2 linked regions of the Homo sapiens genome follow. The protein of the gene in region 1 interacts with the protein of each later gene in a pairwise test. Each region holds a gene or a part of one and is shown in the gene's direction. Other genes may lie near its edges.

What was found. The genes of interacting proteins can lie anywhere in the genome.
Region 2: the proteins of KRT75 (region 1) and LMO4 interact in binary tests that used the Homo sapiens proteins (3 or more experiments, as listed by UniProt).

Annotation. Positions count from the first base shown.
Region 1 is NC_000012.12:52,432,336-52,436,084, reverse strand, and holds the start of KRT75 (keratin, type II cytoskeletal 75), read left to right. Parts: upstream 1-1,713; 5' UTR 1,714-1,780; coding exon 1,781-2,278; intron 2,279-2,832; coding exon 2,833-3,047; intron 3,048-3,749.
Region 2 is NC_000001.11:87,338,855-87,342,603, forward strand, and holds part of LMO4 (LIM domain transcription factor LMO4), read left to right. Parts: intron 1-681; coding exon 682-778; intron 779-1,192; coding exon 1,193-1,348; intron 1,349-3,749. UniProt on the Homo sapiens protein: Transcription cofactor. Plays a role in establishing motor neuron identity, in concert with MNX1, acting, at least in part, to disrupt LDB1-LHX3 complexes thereby negatively modulating interneuron genes in motor neurons.

The DNA of each region.
Region 1 (3,749 bases):
GACTGAATGCTGATTAATTCCTCTCTTACTCTCCCAGGCTTCAAAACCACAGCAAGAAGAAAGCAGGCAGCAAGATAAAAGAAGATTCAGGCCAGGCGCGGTGGCTTAAGCCCGTAATCTCAGTACTTTGGGAGGCCAAAGAGGATGGATGACTTGAGCTCAAGAGTTCAAGACTAGCCTGAGCAAAATGTCGACACCCAGTTTTTACAAAATAGTAAAAAAATTAGAGAGGCATGGTGGAGCATGCCTGTAGTCCCAGCTACTCAGGAAGCTGAGGTGGGATGATCACCTGAGCCCAGGAGGTGGCGGTTGCAGTGAGCCGAGATTGAGCTGCTGCACTCCAGCCTGGGTGACAGAGTGAGACCCTGTCTCAAGGCAGAAAAAAAAAGAAGATTCAGCAATGTTTTGGTTTGACTCTTCCCATGGTAGAGATGGGGCAATGAGTTGCAGAACAGAGAGATGAGGTGCCTTGAAGTCTTCTTTGCGGTTTGTAGACTAATATAGAATGTAGGGCACAGTCTACAAGGTTAACAGGAGAAACAGGGAAGGAACGAATCCTCTGCTAGGTGCAGCTGTTGGAGCTCTTTTGATGAAGGACTGGAGAGCTAGGAATTCTTGGTCCTCAGGAGGAGGAGGAAACTGCCTGGGAGACTTCTGGGATAGGCAGCCTCAAATGCAGCTTGGAGGTGATGATTCATGGTACACCATCTTGTACAGTTTTATCTTCCCAACAGGACCATGAGCTTGTTGAAGATAAATAATGTGCATTGTGTTTCTTTTGAATTCCCACAGGACTAGTCACAGGATGGACATGGTTGGCACTTCCTTAATATTACTTGATTGTATCAGAAAGAGGGGAGCCTCAATAGACATTTACTCAGCACTTACATATACCGGGCATTGCGAAAGTTTTCACATGTGAATATTCATTACAAACCCCATTTTACAGACATGAAAGTTGAGGCACAGAAAAGTTTCATGGCTTGCTCAAGGTCCCACAACTATGAGCAGGTCTGAGATTCAAACCCGAGTCTTTCTCCTCTCACAACCTCTCTTCCCAGGAGACAGAGCACTGGCTGGCCTTGAGAGTCACATTATATTGCAGTGGGCAGGGCACAGGCACACATACACTCCAGAAAACCATGTGTGACCTACACAATAGACACGGAAGCTTAAGAGCAGAATAAAGGGGCAATCAAAATGGGGTGGATTCCTAAGGAAGATGATTACAGAGCGCGACCTTCAAGGTTTGGAAAGACAGCTTGATGGGGCTTGGGGAACCAGGCAGTAGGTGCTGAGAAAATGCTTAGGGAATAGGAAGCACCCCAAGGAAACAGTGAAGTGTAGTGGCTTGTATTAACACAAGATGTTTGGACAGGACGGAGTTGGTCCCAGGCCTAAGAAAGCGGTTTAGAAATGAGGCAGTGTTTGCTGAGTCCTTTACAAGATGCATCATTAGCACATGACGGAAAGCAATTAACTTGCTTCTTACTCATATGCTGATCAAGTTGCAACTGGAAAGGAGTTTGCACGTTGTGGGGAGGGGGTGCCAGGGAACCAGCCAGTGGCCCTTACACCATTTCCCGAGGGATGCCGAGTGTGAGCTCAGGGTTGGCGGATGCCCAGGGAATGCCATCAGAAGGCCCTCTCCACTAGCAGTGCCCCGCCCCCACAGGATGCTCATAAAAGCCACGAGACCAGGGCTCTCCAGCCACCTGTCTTCTCCACTGCCTGTACCAGCCCACCTCAGGTGCCTTCTCGCCGGCCTTCCTCACCCACCATGTCTCGGCAGTCCTCCATCACCTTCCAGTCTGGCAGCCGCAGGGGCTTCAGCACCACCTCGGCCATCACCCCGGCAGCTGGCCGCTCCCGCTTCAGCTCTGTCTCTGTGGCCCGCTCTGCAGCAGGGAGTGGGGGCCTGGGAAGGATCAGCAGTGCTGGGGCCAGCTTTGGAAGCCGCAGCCTCTACAACCTGGGGGGTGCCAAGCGGGTCTCCATCAATGGGTGTGGCAGCAGCTGCCGAAGTGGCTTTGGTGGCAGGGCCAGCAACAGGTTTGGAGTCAACAGTGGATTTGGCTATGGGGGTGGAGTTGGAGGAGGCTTCAGTGGCCCCAGCTTCCCCGTGTGTCCCCCTGGAGGCATCCAAGAGGTCACTGTCAACCAGAGTCTCCTGACTCCTCTTCACCTGCAAATCGACCCCACCATCCAGCGGGTGCGGGCCGAGGAGCGCGAGCAGATCAAGACCCTCAACAATAAGTTCGCCTCCTTCATCGACAAGGTAAGCAGGGGCTTCATCCACCCCCTTGGGTTTGGGATCAAATAAACTCTTGGAAGGGCCATCCCATGGGGGGAGAGCAATAATGCAATGACCCCACTGTGGGAATGAGCACTGTTCAGCACGGGCTCCCAGGGGCTGAGACCCTTCCAAGTCAGGCCAGCTTGCCCCACAGGACCTGGTAGAAATTTCCTCTCTTTCGGAGCCACATGGGCTGGTTCAGTCAACACCAAGGGAAGAGTTTTGTTGATTCTCTACAGGAGAGTTGCTGCTCAGCAAACTACCCTAACCCAGAGTAGGTGGTGTTGAGAAACTTAACCCAAGAGCAGCTCCCCAACAGAAGCCTCTAGGCCCCACCACCCGAATCCTATGCAAGCCCTAGGGAACTTTGCGGTAGCTCCATGGACTGCCTCCTTTTGGGTTGGAGTTGTCAGTTACATTATTGTCAATGGGTGCCAAGTGAAAAAAATATCTTTTTCTTCTCTCCCTTATTAATAGGAGTGTCTAACTCTGCCTCTCCAACTTCTCAAGGTTTCATTCTCTCTTCTTCCCTCCAGGTGAGGTTCTTGGAGCAGCAGAACAAGGTCCTGGAGACCAAGTGGGCCCTCCTGCAGGAGCAGGGCTCCAGGACTGTGAGGCAGAACCTAGAGCCCCTCTTTGATTCCTATACCAGTGAGCTCCGACGGCAGCTGGAAAGCATCACCACCGAGAGGGGCAGGCTTGAAGCTGAACTGAGGAACATGCAGGATGTTGTGGAAGATTTCAAAGTCAGGTAAGTGGGAGACTGGCTTCTGGCCACACACAGCCATCTGAAGGCTCCTTTGTGTGAGGACCAGAGAGGTGCAAAGGAGCAAATGCCGATATCAGCCGGGAGCTTTGGAACTGCAGCCTTTATCCTGCAAGGTGGAGACAGCACTGTGTGGGGTAGCACAAGGACCTTCATCTTGTGTATTGCTATGAAGATCCTATTCCTATTTGTTCACATGACTGCAAAGGGATATCAACATCATCCGACAAAATATTGCTACTCACTCTAGAAATCATAATGTAATTTCACAGTCAGCATATTGTTTAATTCCATTGGACATGGGCTCAATTATTGAGATGGTTTGCATTTCCAGGATGGCATTCACTGTAGAGTGAAGAGAGGTAACAAGGAAGAGTTTAAAGGAGGGCAATCTGACTTTTCTTGTGGGGGGAAACTTTTGACTGCACATCATCCAGGCTGCAGTAGGTGAGGTATCCAGTGGAAAGGGATTTGGTCCAGACTAACCCATTAGCCAGCTTGCCCTTATTTCTAAGCTTGAGCTACCCCTAGTTACAAAAAGCATATTTCTCAGGGGCCACCCTGAGGTTCAGTGAAAATATATCAAAATCTACCCGAAACAGCCTGCTGAACAGATAAAGTTTACTCCACGATTTCGGTAGACACTTGAGGTGGAAAAACATTTTAGATTAGCATTGCATATCTATC
Region 2 (3,749 bases), on another chromosome or scaffold:
AGTAATCTAAATTGTGGACTCAGGAGCAGATAGAGGGAAGTTGGAGCAAGCATTTCATTATCAAGAGAGAGAGAAGGTTAGGATGAAAGAGATGAGCAGAGGCAAATCTTAAGTGTTGACACCATGATTGAAAAGGTTAACCCATACACATTATATATCAACCTGGATAGCAGAGAGTTTCTAATGGAAAGTCTGCACTGATGGAGGTTTACGGGAGTTTCAATACACTGAGCATGATGTCTTCTTAGATATACAATCAAATCCTCTTAACCCTTTTGATGACTCATATCTGAAGATATGATTAAAGTACAAAAGAGTTCTTCATATAATTTCAAGGACACAATGCATTTAAACTCCAGTCATGAATTGTATCTTTTTTTTTTTTATGATGAACCTAGTAATCTGATAAAATGTGTGTAGAACAGAATTGTATTTGCTAGAGGTGTAAGTCAATATTTTGATTAAATCTGGGGCATCCTCTGCGGTAGGCAGAAGTTTGTTGTCCCACAAAAAGGATTTTTCCCAGATTATGTAAATCACTCAGAAAATCTGAGGCTTGAGCCTAAGAATTCAGCCTGTCAAATGCATTCCAAAGGGATGCCCAGAGTCTGGGGGTGTTTTTCTTTCTTTTTCTTTGGTTTAGGATTATTCACTGGTGTCAACCGTTATTCTTTGTTTCAGGTTATTTGGAAATAGCGGTGCTTGCAGCGCTTGCGGACAGTCGATTCCTGCGAGTGAACTCGTCATGAGGGCGCAAGGCAATGTGTATCATCTTAAGGTAGTATTTGCATCTCTCTTTTTTTTTTAAAAAAAAAATCATACCTTTCCTACCTACATGGGGGCAAAGCATTTCTCCTTGGTATGAACTGTTTTCTCAAGCTGCAGACACTTGAAGGAATGATTGAAATTGTAGCATGGCAGTGATGGTTACACATCCACATGCACAGACCACGCTTCCCCTATGCCACAGACAGAAGTACACATGTATTTGGATTTGTCCCCATTTAGCCTGGTCCAGTTGATAGCAATTTGGCTTACTGTTTTCTGGAGATCTGTCAAAGGAAGAAAAAACGCTAAACCCTAAGTGTCTCTGTACTTGACAGATACCTGCTTAATAACAGGTTATAAACTTGTGACCAAAAAAAGACTTAATTTTTACCTTGTTTTCAGTGGGTTTGTTTTTCCCTTTCAGTGTTTTACATGCTCTACCTGCCGGAATCGCCTGGTCCCGGGAGATCGGTTTCACTACATCAATGGCAGTTTATTTTGTGAACATGATAGACCTACAGCTCTCATCAATGGCCATTTGAATTCACTTCAGAGCAATCCACTACTGCCAGACCAGAAGGTGAATACCCAGCAATTACTAATAAGCTTTATTAGAGCAAGTTGGAAGGTTCAACCTCTTAACCTAGCAAGAGAGTTTTCTTGGGTGGTTGTATTTTTGCATGCCCTTTTAAAGAAATGTAGATTACTAGTTGTACATAGAGTGTTCAGAAGTAGGATAGCTGATTAAATTGTGAATCCTTTCTAGTTAAAAAAAAAATCCTGACTTTGTTATATCTGTAGCTTCACTCACGTTGAACATAAGATTATCACATGCAAAAGCAAACAAAATGTAAAGCTTCCATATAACTGGTTATTTATTCCATTTGACAATTTTGAAATTCAGAAACATGATGTGATAGGTTATTGTGGAAGAAAAATTAGAACATTTATGGTAGGAAAAGAGAATAAAGATCTTTGTTATGAAAGAATGATTTCTGCGTTAGGAATAGCAATCTGGACACCTGCCTTCCAAACCCAATTTACAATTCATTTACTTTTTAGAAGAGTAATTTTACAAAACATTCTGTAACTTCATAAGAGGGCATTTTTGTTCATTGGCGGTACCATAACATTTGAATAAGTTATGGCTTTTAAAACCAAGTTCTTGTTCTTGCTAACCCGCTTAGTGCCATTAATAGTGCCATTAGAAATTATGTATCTTGATTCTTGATCCACAACTTGAAAATCCTTGTACCAGAATTAAAAATTAGGAAATTATACAAGTATACAAATCATGTAGTATTAGAAGATATTCCAGAGGGAAAATTGGTGATCAACAGTTGTCCAGCACCCCCAGTACTGGATAGTTTTAGATCTATTTTAATCTCCTTAATAAGTCCTATAGCTATGCAAGTGAGTGCATTTTGATAACTGCTGTGCCTAATTTGTAACAATTACTGTCAACCTTCAGTTAAGAGACTGTTCATTCCACACCGGCCCAGAAAAGAGTGAAATGTATGACTCGTGTGCATAATTTTATTCACATCATATTTCATACTGATTATGTATTGATGACATTGATTCATTTACTCTTTACAGCGCCACTTGCATGGATATTAAATCTTATTGACCACAGATGAATTTTAATTTCAGATTGGTGATAGATTTTTCCATCAGCTCTGATAGTATGTTTGACTTTTTCATCATTAACCCAGGCAATCACACAGCACTGAGTTATTGCATTGAAACAAAAAGTGCACACTTCACTTGGTAATTCTTTATGGATTTACAATAGGAACTTCATTAATGTCTGTTGTAAGGATCACAAAAAAAACAACATTTATCTGCAAATAGGAATTTAGCAAGCTTCAAAAATCTCGGGGAAAAAAATAGACTTTTTTGTCTTCTGTAATGCATTTTCTTAGTGCGGTGGTGGAGGTGGGGGTTTGACAAATATTTGAAAACTTTTAACCATTAAAATTATGCTGCCATATTTTGATGCTTATATTTGCCCTTTTCCCTTGCTCAAGTTTATGAGGTAATTTTAAATGTATGTTCTGTTTCTTAGTGTTAATTACATGACATTATGTGCACTTTAATTTACTAATATGGGGAGCTACATAGAATAACCATTTTAAGAATAAAAGTTGAACTTTTTAATTGCAAACTAACCAGTCACTGCTGATGAGGTATTTCAAGCTTCTTCAAGGAGTGCCAAGACATATAAATGCTTAAAGATTTTTGTGATTTGGATTCTAATGAAGTGAATCTGCAGGGCAGAGTTGAGAACAATGAATGAGCAACATAAATATTTGGAGATACCTATTCAGAATAGAGGTAAAGCTGTTTGTAGTTACACTTGGTAGCAAAAAAGAAAAAATATGCTAGAAATAAAATGGTAGACCTTCTCTCCACTCCTTCTGATGTAAAAGCTTAATTTTTCCCCGAGTTAGAGCTTCACTTTGTTGCTGGTTTTATACCATTTCTTTCTCTGACTTAGCAAAGTACTATACAAAAAAATGATTGTTGCAGTTCACCAGCATGCATGGTGAGAATGAAAGGATGTAGAGATGAGATGGAAAATGTTGCTAGATTGTGAAGCACTGAATACAGGCAATAGCAGTGTTAGGTAGGGACCAAGTATAAAGCACACCTAAGAAATATGAGCAGGATTTCATACCATCTTTTATAGTATAAGATGGCATAAATTTAGAGGTGTTAGGGAGGAGAACTGCAGAAAAACCAGGTTTACCTGTTGATGAGATTACATGTCTTATGCCTTTCATTGAAATCTGTTTTCCACACCTTTTCCAGGATGGCAGTGGTAGGGTATTCATTTTGGAACACTATATTTTAGGCAATGAATAAGAACCTATTAGTGTATGTTTTCTTAATGTTGGAGGCCAAAAAAGAGACAGGTGGCCTTCAAAAATTAATAGCTCTTAAAAGGCATAAGGAAATACAACTTATGGAAATGTTCT